2 linked regions of the Homo sapiens genome follow. The protein of the gene in region 1 interacts with the protein of each later gene in a pairwise test. Each region holds a gene or a part of one and is shown in the gene's direction. Other genes may lie near its edges.

The links.
Region 2: the proteins of CLASRP (region 1) and CFAP20 interact in binary tests that used the Homo sapiens proteins (3 or more experiments, as listed by UniProt).

Annotation. Positions count from the first base shown.
Region 1 is NC_000019.10:45,055,630-45,063,379, forward strand, and holds part of CLASRP (CLK4-associating serine/arginine rich protein), read left to right. Parts: intron 1-820; coding exon 821-905; intron 906-2,120; coding exon 2,121-2,269; intron 2,270-3,638; coding exon 3,639-3,735; intron 3,736-4,759; coding exon 4,760-4,838; intron 4,839-4,924; coding exon 4,925-4,998; intron 4,999-6,524; coding exon 6,525-6,566; intron 6,567-7,750. UniProt on the Homo sapiens protein: Probably functions as an alternative splicing regulator. May regulate the mRNA splicing of genes such as CLK1. May act by regulating members of the CLK kinase family.
Region 2 is NC_000016.10:58,119,007-58,126,381, reverse strand, and holds part of CFAP20 (cilia- and flagella-associated protein 20), read left to right. Parts: intron 1-7,375. UniProt on the Homo sapiens protein: Cilium- and flagellum-specific protein that plays a role in axonemal structure organization and motility. Microtubule inner protein (MIP) part of the dynein-decorated doublet microtubules (DMTs) in cilia axoneme, which is required for motile cilia beating.

The DNA of each region.
Region 1 (7,750 bases):
TCGAGACCAGCCTGACCAATATGGAGAAACCCTGTCTGTACTAAAAGTACAAAATTAGCCAGGCACGGTGGCGCCTGCCTGTAATCCCAGCTACTGGGGAGGCTGAGGCAGGAGAATCGCTTGAACCTGGGAGGCGGAGGTTGCGGTGAGCCAAGATCGCGCCATTGCACTCCAGCCTGTGCAACAAGAGTGAAACTCTGTCTTAAAAAAATAAGAAAAGAAAAACTGAGGCCTAGGGAGGGAAGGAAGGAAGGGGACTTACAACCCACTGTCCCACAGCGAGTCAGGGACACGTGTCTCACTGCAGGGAAGATCAGGAAGGCTCTGGTACATTGTTGAGTCCCCCAGGCTGGGTGTTGGGGGTGCAGGAGAGCCCAGGTCATCCCAGCCCACACCTAACTTAAAATGAGCCACAGAGAGGCATGCAGTGGAGTGACCTGTGCAGTCAGAATGGCGTGTGGCACTCAGGAGCAGGTTATGGTTCTGAAGGGTCCAGCCAGAGGCCTCCAGAAACAGTGAGAATGGTGGTAGAGTGCCCAAGTACCAGGCCAGGCACTCACTCTGCCCGTGGTCCCATTTTACGGAAAAGGAAACTGAGGCACAGATGTGTTAAGTCCCTTGACCAAGGTCGTGTGTCCAAGGCTCTGCTGCAGTTGCTTGTGTCCCACCAGACATAGTTTGATTATCTGGAAGTGGTGACTGCCCCCCAAGGTGCACTGGGGTTGCACCTGTCTTCCTGCCCCACCGCACCCTTGTGTTCCCCCACTGAATTCCTAGTGTCCCCAACCCACTCTGACCTGGGGTCTCTTGTTTGCTGCAGTCTCAGAGGAGCAGTGCCTGTACCAGATCTACATTGATGAGTTGTACGGAGGCCTCCAGAGACCCAGCGAAGATGAGAAGAAGAAGTGAGTCGGGGTCTGGGGTGCAGGGGGTTGAGGAGGCAGGAGGGCTGGGAGCCCCAGCCAGGCATGGCCTCTTCCATCCTGTCCACCAGGGTCTCCCCGAAACCAAGGATGGTGTTCAGCACACAGTCAGTGCTCAATTAATAACTGTGTAGAGGAAGAAGCCCTGTCAGGGGGCCCCGGCTTGCCGAGGGCTCTGCGTTACATTTTCAGCTTGGGAAGTGGTGGGAGGTGCAGGCCCTGTGGTGAGACAGCCCTGGGTTTGAGTCCTGGCTGTGAGGCCCTGAGTGGGAATTGTCTGAGCCTTGCTGTGCTTCCCTGTAAAATGGGGCTGGCAGGAGGCCCTACTGCCTGGAGTTGGGAGGCATGCAGGAGATGGGGCTTGTGAAGTACCTATTCCAGCACCTGCCATGTAGTGAGCTTGCAGTCAGCCCTAGCTGATGTCACTCTGGAGAGAGGCTTCTTAAAGCCGCGTCCCTCAAGGAGTAGCTGGGGAGACCCGGGCCTTATCCTGGAGCAGCTGCCTCTGAGGAGCAGTGGCCGAGCAGTCTCACTTCTCTCTTCTCCACCTCAGTCTGATGAGTGCAGGCCTCCCGCCCTCACACACGCTATTCCCTCTGCAGGGCTTAGCTCTCCTCCAGGCCAGCTGCTGTTGCCCTGGTGCACGGTAGCCTGGAGCCCTGGCTCGGGGCTGGGCAGCTCCCTCAGTGACACCTTCCCTCCTGCTACCCCTGACTGCTTGCCGCCTTCCTCCACTGGGAGGGGTCCCATGGGACTGTACTGGGAGCTTCTTGGAGACTTCAGCCCTCGTCCACGGCCCCAGCCTCAGGATCCTGCTCAGGCCCTGCTCTGTTCAGGGCAAAGCTGGGGCACCTGGCTGCTCAGGAGGACTCTGGGCTGTGCCCTTGTGGGACTCATGGTCTAGGCGGGAGACAGACCTTCCCCAACAGAGATGACCCAACAAAGGCAGGGCTGGGGAGCTCAGGACAGTGCTGACCCACCCTAGGGTACCAGTCAAGGACTTCTTGGCAGGTGGGGCCCTAGAGCTCAGATGTGGAGGAAGAGGGAGGAGCTGGGTGTGGGCAGGAGCAGAGGGTCCTAGGCTGAGGGAGAGCCTGAGGGGAGGGGGCCGTGGCACTCGAGACTGGTGTGTGGGGCTAGCCTGGGGCCCTCATCTCCACTGGGCACGGCCCTGGCTTACCAGCTCCCCTTTCTCAGGCTGGCAGAGAAGAAGGCTTCCATCGGTTATACCTACGAGGACAGCACGGTGGCCGAGGTAGAGAAGGCGGCAGAAAAGCCAGAGGAGGAGGAGTCAGCGGCCGAGGAGGAGAGCAACTCGGACGAAGATGAGGTCATCCCCGACATCGGTGGGGTCCCCTCTCTGCCCTCCCCACCTGCAGTCCCTGGGCATCGTTTCTGTGTCTCGTCCCTCACCCTCTGTGGGGCACCCCGTGCTTACGAACCGTGTCTCTCTCCCTACCCCGCCCCAGGGCACACCAGCCTCCTGCTGCCCCTGTCTCACTCCTGTCCTCCTCCGTTCCGGCCTTCCTCTGCCTCACTCATCTCTCATTTCTAGGGTGCTATTTCTATGATCTTTTCCCCTCCTAGGTGTTGGCTCCATTCTCCTCCACTTGGGCCGGCCTCTCTCTGCCTTTGCCCCTCTCTCCTGCTCTCTTCCCTCCTCTGGAAAACAAGTGTTCATCCTCTTACAGAGTCAGCCCCCATCCGCCAGGCATCTGTTCACCCTCCTCTCTGCCATTCACCTCCCCTCTGGATTCCCACTGATCAAACCACCCCCAAGTCTCTCTGTTTTTCTCATCCTGGTTCTTACTCCAGCAACTGGCTCTTTTTATTTATTTATTTATTTATTTTTGAGATGGAGTCTTGCTCTGTTACCGGGCTGGAGTGCAGTGGCATGATCTTGGCTCACTGCAACCTCCACCTCCTGGGTTCAAGTGATTCTCCTGCCTCAGCTTCCCAAGTAGCTGAGACTAAAGGCACACGCCACCACGCCCAGCTAATTTTTGTACTTTTAGTAGAGACGGGGGTTTCACCATATTGGTCAGGCTGGTCTTGAACTCCTGACCTCGTGATCCACTTGCCTCGGCCTCCCAAAGTGCTGGGATTACAGACGTGAGCCACCGCGCTCAGCCCAGTAGCTGGCTCTTTATTCACACTCTGTGGAGCCACACATTGACCTCCGCCCAGCCCTCCTTCCTCTGGCTTATCACACGCCCTGCTTCCAAACACCTGTGACCCACACCCTGCCTGCCACCCACCGTGATCTCCAGCCGCCATCTTTCCGCCCCTGTTCAGTCCTCCCTCTCACGTCAACCCCACCACACGCCTCACTCATCCATTCCTCCCTCCCTCCATCCACCCATCCCTCCTTCCTTCCTTGCCTCCATTCCATTCATCCATCCATCCATCCCTGCATCCCTTCATCCATCCCTGCACCCATCCGTCCATCTCTCCCTTCTCTTTCCCTCCCTCCGTTCATCTGCCCCTTCAAGCCCTGTCCCCGAGCTGCCTCTGTCCACTGTGTGTTGTGCTCACCTCTGGCAAGCCCAGTGCCAGCCTAGGGCATGCCAAGATGAGCCAGACTTGATGCCATCCCTTCCTGAAGAATCCCTCAGTCTGGCGGGCGCCCCATCATCCCCGCCTCCTGGAGCACTGCCCCTTCTCCCCTGTCCTCTCGCTCGGCCGTGGCTCCTGACAGCCTTTCTCTTGGTGCAGACGTGGAGGTGGACGTGGATGAATTGAACCAGGAGCAGGTGGCAGATCTCAACAAACAGGCCACGACTTATGGCATGGCCGACGGTGACTTCGTCAGGTGAGGCCTGCCTGCTGACACCCCTACCCATTCTGTGGGCCCCACCCTGGCATCTCACTATTACTCCCGGTATTGACAGCCATCCTGTTTGTGAGCATTTGTGTGCCTGGCCCTGGGCCCAGGACTTTACACATGCAGGTCCCTGAGCCTATGGTGGTCGTGGCCCCACTTCATCTGTGCAGAAACAGGCTGCACCCAAGTCACCCAGCCTGCCCTACTTAGTGCGACCTGGGGCGAATCTGACTCTTCGAAGCTCTGGGGATTCCTAGGCTGGGGGACAGCGCCCTCTAGTGGAGAGGCTTCATTCCCTGGTTATTTATCCTGGCAGTTGCTGGTTGTACCTCTACCCTGAGCCACACCCCCTGCTGAGCTCACAAGACCACACAGAATGGTCCCAGCTCACTGGGCAGTGAACCAGAAACGGAGCCTGAGCATGGCACCCTCTGCCCAGAGCCCTTTGTGGCTCCCACCTCCCTCAGGAACATCCAGTGTCCTCACCATGGCCGAAAGGTCTTACCCATCTGGTCCTCTCAACCGCCACCATCCCCCGCTGCCCAGCCTGCACAGTCTCCTTGCTCCTCAAGTGCAGAGGCCTGGGCCAGCCCCTGGGCCACTCTGTCTGCTGTTCGCTTTGGACGTCTGCAGCTTGCTCCCCCAGGTTTTTCTCTAGATACCCTGTTTTGTGTGGCTTCCCTGAGCTCCCTCTTGAAAACTGCAGCTTCCTCTGCCTTTGCTCTACCATCTAATGGACCACACATTTTATTCCCTTGCTCATTATCTTCTCCCCTAGAATGTAAGCCCGTGCAGGTGAGGATTTCTGTTTTTTTTTTTCAGTGCTCAGTTCTTGATACCTAAGATAGCACCTGGCACACAGAGGGTGCTTGATAAGTGGCATTGAATGAAAGATACCTCAGGCTGGCGTGGGGTGACTCAGGTCCCTCACTTTCTCTGATGACTCAGTCTGTGTCCTCCTTACCCTGTGGCCTGCCCCATCCTCCACCCTAATTCTCACCCACCTCTATAGGATGCTCCGGAAAGACAAGGAGGAGGCAGAGGCCATCAAGCATGCCAAGGCTCTTGAGGAGGAGAAGGCCATGTACTCGGTGAGGTCTGGGCTGGAGTGGAAGGGGACAGGGGTGTGTCACAGGGAGGGCACCCCCTCACCAACCTGGCACCCACCCTACTCCAGGGACGCCGCTCTCGACGCCAGCGGAGAGAGTTTCGGGAGAAGCGGCTGAGGGGTCGCAAGATCAGCCCACCCAGGTAGGGCTTCTCCCTGAACCCCCACCCTGCTGGCATCTGGGGGAGGAGAGCAGGGGCTTAGGGCCTGAGAAAGCTCTTTGGAGGCAGGCATTTGACTTGAGAAAGGAGTCTTTCTAGTGGGGCGATGCATGGCCATCGTGAAGGTTTAGAGGTAGGAACGGCCTTGAGGGCCATGTGGACTCCTTTCCTTGCCAGCCCCTCCCCTCACCCTACTGGACTGGGGGCCCTTGCCAGACTCCCAGGAGCCCATGCACAGGCGGCATAAGGCTCTCACCAAGGCGGCAGAGAGGGCACAGGCTTTGCCCTGGACTCTCACCCAGTTCTGCTGCTTGGCTTCTTCCTGTGTCGGAGTTTGGACAAGTGACTTCCCGAACTCTCTGAGCTTCAATTTTTTCCTTTGGAAAACAAGGCATTATCACCTACCTGGAGAGAGGGCTGGGCAGTCCCCACAGGGAGGTCTTGGGACAGGTTTGGATGAGGCAGGCTGGCTTGGAGAGGAAAGCCCAGCCTGGGTCAGGAGGCCTTGAGGAGAGGCCCTGTGCAAACCCATGCCTCTTTTTGCCACATCTCTTAAAGGAGAGTGACTGAGAGTTCCTGTAAGGCTTAAACAACTTGTAGGTTCAGCGGTTGGTATCGGAAACATTCCTTAAAGAATAGCACCAATCGTCATTGCTGTCAGCGGTGGCACAGAGGCACACAGAGGGTAGTGCAGGAACGCCCAGGCTGGGTGGCCATAGGGCCTGGGTTTGGATCCCAGTTTCCTCCTTTATGAGCTACGTAATGCTGGACAAGTGACTTCACCTCTCTGGGCCTCAGTTTCCTCAGCTGTGATAGTCTCTCTTTTTTTTTTCTTCCCCCAGAGACAGGGTCTTATTCTGTCACCCAGGCTGGAGTGCAGTGGTGTAATCACGACTCACTGCAGCCTCAAATTCCTAGGCTTAGGCGATCCTCCTACCTCAGTCTCCTTAGTAGCTGAGATTACTGGTATGCGTCACCACGCCCAGCTAATTAAAATAAAAAATACTTAGTAGAGATGGGGTTTTGCGGTGTTGCCCAGGCTGGTCTCAAACTCCTGGGTTCAAGTGATCCTCCCACCTCAGCCTCCCAGAGTGCTGGGATTACAGGCGTGAGCCACCGCACCCAGCCTATTTTAATCTTATCATCATCATCATCATCATCATCATTAGTAAGCCCGGACCCAGTGAGAGCCAGAGACAAGGATTGGGAGGAGGGATGCTTTCATTCTAGGGTCAGGAGGCCAAGCAGAACCAGAGCTGCTGAAGTCCAAGTTCCTCAGAGTCATGATGGGTCTAGGACATTGTAGGGTGGGGCTTAAGTTCATGCTTTGGACAGATCTGAGGTGGGGGTGGGTGGAGGAATTAAGGGGAGGCCCCCAACCTGGTCAGCAGCCCCCTCACTGTGCCAGGTACCTAGCTTTGGGTCCTCAGGTTGGCGGGCTTATCCCAAATTCATGACTGCTGAGATCTTAAGCCCTAATTTGTCCCACCCCATTCTTTTCTCTGTAGCTATGCCCGCCGAGACAGCCCCACCTATGACCCCTATAAGCGGTAAGTTGCTCTGGAGGACCAGGGAATAGCAGACAGGGAGCCTCCTGATGGGGACAGGGGTGCTGAGGAGGGGATGGGAGGTTCACCCTGCTAGGCCACCCCAAGATCACAGACTGCATGATATGTTCTGGGTCTGAATCATTTTTGTGTTTTCCAGATCACTGTCTTGTTTTCCCAGTTTTAAATAAAATTTTTTTTTTGAGACGGAGTCTCGCTATGTCGCCCAGGCTGGAGTGCAGTGGCACGATCTTGGCTCACTACAAGCTCCGCCTCCCAGGTTCACGCCATTCTCCTGCCTCAGCCTCCTGAGTAGCTGGGACTACAGGTGCCCGCCACCAGGCCTGGCTAATTTTTTGTATTTTTAGTAGAGTTTAGTAGGGTTTCACCGTGTTAGCCAGGATGGTCTCAATCTCCTGACCTCGTGATCCACCCACCTCAGCCTCCCAAAGTGCTGGGATTACAGGCGTGAGCCACCACGCCCGGCCAATAAAATTTTCTTTATCTTTGAAGCTTCTTTATTTTATTTTTCTGATTTAAATACAGTGCAGCCTTGTGGTAAAAATGACCAAATATGGCAAAACAGTGTGACTGAGAAATCAAGTCACTTTAATCTCAATTTCCAGAAGTGGCCAGTGGGAAATAACGGGCACTCAGTAGCACCGCTGGGCACAGGTCGTTGTCTCGTGGATGAAAGAGTGGTTGGAGAAGGGATTTTGTGAGGGACCAAGCTCAGTCTGATCCCAGTCCCCCTCATCCAAGCTCCATAGCTCTCTGAAGCCCAGTTCCCTCTTCGGAATGGGGGTGGGAATGGGATCTTCCTCATGGGGCTGTGGGTCGAGGTTAGATGAGATAAGGTGTTGAATGGCTTCTGGGGAAATAAAAGGTGTAGGTTAGTGCTCCATACATGGGAGTGTCAGGAATATCAGATACTTTCTTTTTATTTTTAAAATTTTATATATTAAAAAACACGTTTGTTTTTTTTTTCTTTAAAATATTGAGATGGGGCTCACCATGTTGACCAGGCTGGTTTTGAAGTTCTGGCCTCAAGCAGTCCTCCCACCTGGGCCTTCCAAAGTGCTGGGATTACAGGCATGAGCCATCACACCTGGCCACTTTGTTTTTATTTTACTAAAATAGAATTGCACCACACTCAGTGTTTTAGAACTTGCTTTTTCCTCCCAGAT
Region 2 (7,375 bases), on another chromosome or scaffold:
TGGCTTGTTCGTTAGTGTTTGTCACACCGGCAATTTATTTGACTCTCTGAAGCTCACAGCCCCTCCCCTCCATCTCATCCTTCCAATCTCAACTTAAACATTCTTTTCATTGAGAACTTGAGTTAAGCCTCATGGGTGTGCCTGTGGCTGGCAGTTTTCTATTGTAGATCGTCCACTGGACTGCAGGTTCCTTAAGCAGAAGAACAGTACCTTACCGAAAAACCTCAATGCTAGGGCGTGGTCAGACACCTTGGATTTGCATCCTGGCTGTGCTGTGTTCCAGTTGTGTGATCTTAGCTATGTCCTTAACCATTCAGTTTTCTCGTCTATTTCTCACGGTTATGAAGATTCAATGAAGCTGTATATAAAGTCCTTAGCAACAGAGTTACAGTATATGTAGTCATGCACCACATGATGGCGTTTCAGTCAACGACAGACCTTACACATGACAGTGGTGCCATAAGATTATCATGGAGCTGAAAAATTCCTGTCGCTTAGTGACATAATAGTTGTTCGTTAAGTCAAATGCATTACTCGTGTTTGTGAGTAGGTGTAAACCAACCTACTGCACTGCCAGTCATGTAAAAGTATAGCATATACAATGATGTTCAGTGCCTAACACTTGATGATAAATGACTATGTTACTGGCTTATGTATTTACTATACTCTTTATCATTATTTTATTGTATTTTATTTTTCTGAGACAAGGTCTTGCTGTTGCCCAGGCTGGAATGCAGTAGTGCAATCAGGGCTCACTGCAGTCTCCATCTCCTGGGCTCAAGCAATCCTCCCACCTCAACCTCCCAAGTAGCTGGGACTACAGGCCCTCACCACCACACCTCACTAATTTTTGTATTTTTGTAGAGACGGGGTTTCTCCATGTTGCCCAGGCTGGTCTTGAATTCCTATGCTCAAGCAGTCCTCCTGCCTCAGCCTCCCAAAGTGCTAGAATTACAAGCATGAGTTCCCGTGCCTGGCCTTATCATAATTTTAGAATGTACTCCTACTTAACAACAAGAACAAAAAGTTAACTGTAAAATAACCTTAGGCAGGTCCTTCAGGAGATATTTCAGAAGAAGGCAGTGTTGTCATAGGAGATGACAGCGCCATGTGCGTTATTGCTCTTGCAGACCTTCCAGTGGGACAGCATGTGGAGGTGGAGACTGTGATTGATGTTAATGATCCTGACCCTGTGCGGGCCTGGGCTCATGTGTGTGTTTGTGTCTTAGTTTTTAACAAAAAAGTTTAAAAAGTTAAAAAAAGAAATAGGAAAAACCTTATGGAATAAAGATATATAGAAAGAAAATATTTTTGTGCAGTTGAACATTGTGTTTTAAGCTAAGTGTTATTACAAAATAGTCTAAAAGTTTTTAAAATTTTTAAAGTTTATAAAGTAAAAAAGTTCCAGTAAGCCAAGGTTAATTTATTATTGATGAAAGAAAAATATTTTTAATAAATTTAGTGTAGTCTGGCCAGGCACAGTGGCTCATGCCTGTAATCCCAGCACTAACTAAATAACTAAAGCACAGTGGCTCATGCCTGTAATCCCAGCACTAACTAAATAACTAAATAAAATAAATGTATTGTAGCATAAGTGTATTGTGTTTACAAAGTGTTCAGTAATGTCCTAGGCCTTCACATTCACTCACCACTCACTCACTGACTCAACCCAGAGCAACTTCCAGTCCTGCATGCTCCACTCATGGCCAGTGCCCTATCCAGTTGTGTCACTTTTTATCGTTTATACAGTACTGTACCTTTTCTATGTTTAGACACACAAATACGTACCATTATGTTACAGTTGCCTACAGTATTCAGTACAGTAGTATGCTGTACAGATTGTAGCCTAGGGGCAATAGGCTATACCATATGGCCCGGGTGTGTAGGATGTTGTACTGTCTAAGTCTGTGTAAGTACACTCTGATATTCACACAGCCATGGAACTGCCTAATGAGGCATTTCTCAGAACGTAATCCCATCCTTAAGCAATGCATGACTGTAGTTAGTACTTTATAAGTAATGACATACAGAATTAAATATGGCAGGGACTGAGGAATTTGCTCAAAACTAAAATAAGATGTTTGAACTTAGCCCACCATCCAGATTTCTAGGAATAGGAAGTACTGTAAAACCAGACTCCTGAAATGAGAAGAATTTAGTTGTTGCACCGTGGCTCGCCCAGCCCTAAGCCCTTAATGTGGCTCTAAGGCCACATAACCCATGCTCTGGCACCTGCTTCACTTGTTCTCCAGGCGGGACTCACTTCACCCGGTTCCCCCTCTTAGTAGTAGCCTCCTACTGAATTGAAGGAAGTCCTGTTCTCTCACCTTCAAGCTTTTGCACTTCCTGGTCCTTCTGCTGGGCGCTGCCCCTCACCACCCCACAAGCCTCACTCCCATCTTTTCATTAGGCTCCAGTCACAGTTCAAAGGCCTTTCTCAGAGTGACCTTCCTTAACTCTTCAGGGTAAGTTAATTTACTTCTTTCTTATCACACTTGACATTATTAGCTTCTTAAGGTCTGTATTCCTGGCTATACAGTTTCCTGATAGAAGCTTTTGTAAGTTTCTAAACCAACAGCTTAGAAGAAATTAGGGGTTTCTTTAATGTTACCTTGACATCTGGGACCAGCAAATCTTATATTTATTAAAAGACTCTTACGTTTAATGTAAACATTACTTCTGGTTGTAAGGAAAATACCAGGAGGTTCTGTTCCCACTTATACTTGTGTAAAACATGCTGTAATTTTCAGTCTTTTTTTTTTTTTTTTTTTTTTTTTTTTTTTTTTGAGACAGAGTCTTGCTCTGTCCCCCAGGCTGGAGTGCAGTGGCACGATCTCGGCTCACTGCAGGCTCCACCACCTGGGTTCACGCCATTCTCCTGCCTCAGCCTCCGGAGTAGCTGGGACTACAGGCGCCCGCCACCACGCCCAGCTAATTTTTTGCATTTTTAGTAAAGATAGGTTTTCACCGTGTTAGCCAGGATGGTCTCGATCTCCTGACCTCGTGATCCGCCTGCCTTGGCCTCCCAAAGTGTTGGGATTACAGGCGTGAGCCACTGCGCCCAGCCAATTTTCGGTCTTAATGGTAGTAATCCTGGCTGGGCGCAGTGGCTCACGCCTGTAATCCTAGCACTTTGGGAGGCCAAGGCGAGCTGAGGTCAGGAGTTCAAGACCAGCCTGACCAACATGAAGAAATCCCGTCTCTACTAAAAATACAAAAGTTAGCCGGGCATGGTGGCACATGCCTGTAATCCCAGCTACTCGGGAGGCTGAGGCAGGAGAATCACTTGAACCCGGGAGGTGGAGGTTGCGGTGAGCCGAGATGGTGCCATTGCACTCCAGCCTGGGCAACAAAAGCAAAACTTTGTCTCAAAAAAAACAAGATAGTATCCTAAAAGTACATGAGATGAGATTGCATTAATTCATGAAAACGCCTTTGTCTGTCTTTCCTGTCACCCTGTCTTTCTCTCAGCTGCTGCTGTTTCTCCCCTACTCCAAGACTAAATATTAGACCAGAGTCTTCTGCTGTTGCTGGATAGTGTTAGATTCCCATGTCCTGTTCTAATTTTAAAAATAAAGTCTCTCTTCAGAAAAAATTTCCTACATTCTAGTTTTTAGTTAGCATGCCTTGTTGATAAAAATTAAATTGGTGCTGTTTTCAGTAGTAGAATTGAGTGTATTTGGACATAAAGGTGGTAAAACTTTTTTTCTGACTTGGAGAATGTTCTTCATTATTCTGAGTCAGGTTTTACTGTAATTGAACGAAGACATGGTTTTTTGGTTTTGTTTTTCTTTTTTTTTGAAACAGAGTCTCGCTCTGTCACCCAGGCTGGAGTGCAATGGCACAATCTCAGCTTACTGCAACCTCCTCTTTCTGGATTCAAGCAATTCTCCTGCCTCAGCCTCCTGAGTAGCTGGGATTACAGGCATGCGCTACCACACCCAGCTAATTTTTTTGTATTTTTAGTAGAGATGGGGTTTCACATGTTGCCCAGGCTGGTCTCAAACTCCTGATCTCAGGTGATCCTCCCACCTCAGCCTCCAAAAGTGCTGGGATTACAGGCGTGAGCCACCGCGCCCGTCCGAAGACATGGGTTTTAATTACACTTGCCTTTTCTTAGCTGTGCACATAATTGTCCTTACGCTGACTTAGGGGTTGTTGGTGTATGCCCAGAGTTGCTTGTCTGCTGTCTGGATAGCCCCTGTCAAGTACAGCGAAGGGAGTGAAGCCTTTGACCCTTGGAGCCTGGGAGTCTGAGTCGGAGCTATGCTCAGTTCTCCCCACAGGGGTCTCCCTCTGCCTAATTTCTGTCTGGGAACCCAGCCCTTAACCCAGTGCAGGAACTTTCCTGCTGAAATGGACAGCTCTAATGGTTTAATGTAAATTAGAGCATGTGTCATTAAAGCTAGGATGCCAGATGGCTGAGGGTTCAGCTGCCTGCCAGGCTGAGTGGGTGGGGCCAGAAAAATGAAAGTTGGGGGAGGGAATGGATACAACTCATGTTATTTTTAAAGCAGTCATAGAAATATACAGCATCCACCAGCTCCCTCCCTATCCCAGTAGTAGTATTTTTTTTTTCCCTCAGCTTGACCCACCTCCCTGAGGCTTACATTGCGGGGAGGGAGAGAAATCGGTGTTCTTTATTAGTTGCCCTAGCAACCATGGAAAGCCTGGGAGAGTGATTGTAAGACTGGCCTGAAGCTTTGGTCACCTCTGTTGTCTGCAGAGGCAGAGAACCATTATGATCTGTAATTGCCAGTAACTGGATTCTGAAGCTCTTTGAGTATCTCCAGCTCATGGGCAGGGGAGGGGAAATTAATGAAATAAAACAATATTGGCTTTAGATTTTTATTTTTATTTTATTTTTTTTGAGGAATAAAGCACTCATAGGCCACACTTTGATAGTGGGAATGTGTCATGAATGAAAAAGAATTAACAAATCAAAAACAGTCGGCTCTTTGTGATCTAGAGAAGGACAGAACATGTTAAAACCTGCTTCCGCCATGAGCAATAAATGCTGAGCAGTTCATTTTATCTTCATCCCAAAGCCACGCCTGCCCAGTGACCTCTGAACTGGAAGGAGCTAAGGAAAGGACGTTGATACTTTCTGAGACATGTATCTTCCTGTATGCTGTTTTCAGAAGCTGGTTTTAGGAGACGGTTGCTTTCCTGGAAGACCTTTATAATATTAGGCAATGACAGCCACATGGCCAGGGTGGTGGGGAGCCTTTGCCCCAAATTGCCTGTCGCCTCTCCCCTTTGATCCTAGTTTTAGAGCCTAGAGAAGAGGCTTTGGGAAATTACCCTCTAATGCACATATCTGATTGATCGCCCTTACCACCTCCACGCTACTCTTTTCCAGTGAGTTTGTATTTGCAGCCCTTTAAACTTAATAAAGGAGAAAAATCACAATTCACTAACAAATCCACTTAATTTGATTTCAAACCTCTGGAGACTTTTCACATGGGGATACTTGTGTTTTTCTTCATCGGGGGTTAAACAGTCTCTTGGGGAAAAGCTCTGTTTAGTTTGTCTTACCACCAGCCAGGTTCAAAATCTAGAGAGACTGATGGGCATTCCTTCAACAAAGTTGCCTTGACCCCTCCAAGTTCCCTTGTTTTGTGGAATACATTCATTCATTTTGTAAAACTTAAATTTGTGAGTGTGTTTGTTATCTAGTAACACTGGGAGAAAAAGAAATCTCTTTAGTAATTTATTGAAAATCCAACTAAAAGTTAGCTTGCCTCTGGGCAGAAGTGCAGGAATACTACAGTCTATCCAGCTTCCAGCCTGCATTGGCTTCTGTGTGCATTGTACGGCTTTGTTTTCTTCTGTGAAGACCTGAATAGGTCATATCTGCTGGAGTTCCAGGGAAGTCGTAAACTTTGAGATGGGCAGAAGGCAGATTCCCTAACATTTTCTCCCTGTGAGATCTGGCTGGTCTTTCTGGAACTGAGGGAGGCCTCTTGTTGACACTGGCCAGAGAGAGCTTGAGTGATGTGAAATTTGAGGGCATGCTTTAAATAAGGGTGGATCAATAGCAACATGTTGCTTTTTAGCAATAGCAGTTTTCAGGCCCAAGTTACTTCTTAATCCTGTCAATTTAACTGTCTATTTGCTCTTTGCAGTTTGTCCCGTTTTAAAGAATGGTTATGTTATTGAGAATAATTAGTGGTGTGTTATAAAAGTAGTGTTTGCATCTTGTTGGAATACTGCCAGCTCTTATCAGTAGGGCTGCTCGCATTAGTTGGAAATGATTTCTTCATTAATTCCTTCTTCACTGAATCTGCTTGGTTTTCCACAGAAAATACAGGAGGAATATCGCCACTTAGGTTGGGAACATGAGATGGCGAGTGAGGTGGGCACTTAGGTTGGGAACATGAGATGGCGAGTGAGGTGGGCACTTAGGTTGGGAACAGTAGATGGCGAGTGAGGTGGGCACTTAGGTTGGGAACATGAGATGGCGAGTGAGGTGGGCACTTAGGTTGGGAACAGTAGATGGCGAGTGAGGTGGGCACTTAGGTTGGGAACATGAGATGGCGAGTGAGGTGGGCACTTAGGTTGGGAACAGTAGATGGCGAGTGAGGTGGGCACTTAGGTTGGGAACAGTAGATGGCGAGTGAGGCGGGCAGTAGTGGCGTATTCTGCACAGACCCAGGCCTTTGTGCTCTTAATCTCCTTGGAAAGGGGCCCAGAATTCAAAGCAGGAGGGCATTGAACATTGCCAGCTTTGTTTGAGAATCGTTTCAATGTGACGTTTTGTGTCTTGAGAGCCTAAGAAATGCTCCATTGGCAGGGATTGGGGTCCCGTCTAGCCCAGTATTCTGTCTCTGACAATGGGCACCCATTTGTGGAAGCATTCTTCATGCTGGCGGCCCTGTGGGCTTTGTGATATGCCCCAGATCTCTGGCTTCCTATAATAGTCCACGGGGGATGTGTTATCCAGGAATTTTTAAAACCCTCCTTGAACCTATTCATATGTGCCAGCTCTTAGGGTGACAGATTCCAGAAGTCAGCAAATATTTGAACGCTTAGTTTATGGCTAGCACTGTGCTAAGCATTGTCGAAGATAGAAATGATGCTTCATAACTGGTCTTGGCTCTTGCTTGAGCTTATTCTTTTTTAAGGAGACAAGACTTGGTTGCAGTTGTGGAAAAGGTGGGCAGTGACATCAGATGTCACCTTTAGAACACCAGGCAGACCATGAGTGGATCAGACTCACAGTGACAGAGCTCACAGAGACTAATGTCTAAAAACAGAAACATATTATTAATAATTTATGTTGAAAAATAAAACTACCAGACCCAACACTGATTTATCCCCATATGCAAGTCTAATAGCCAAATCGTAATCAGCAGGCTGATGAGTGAACAAG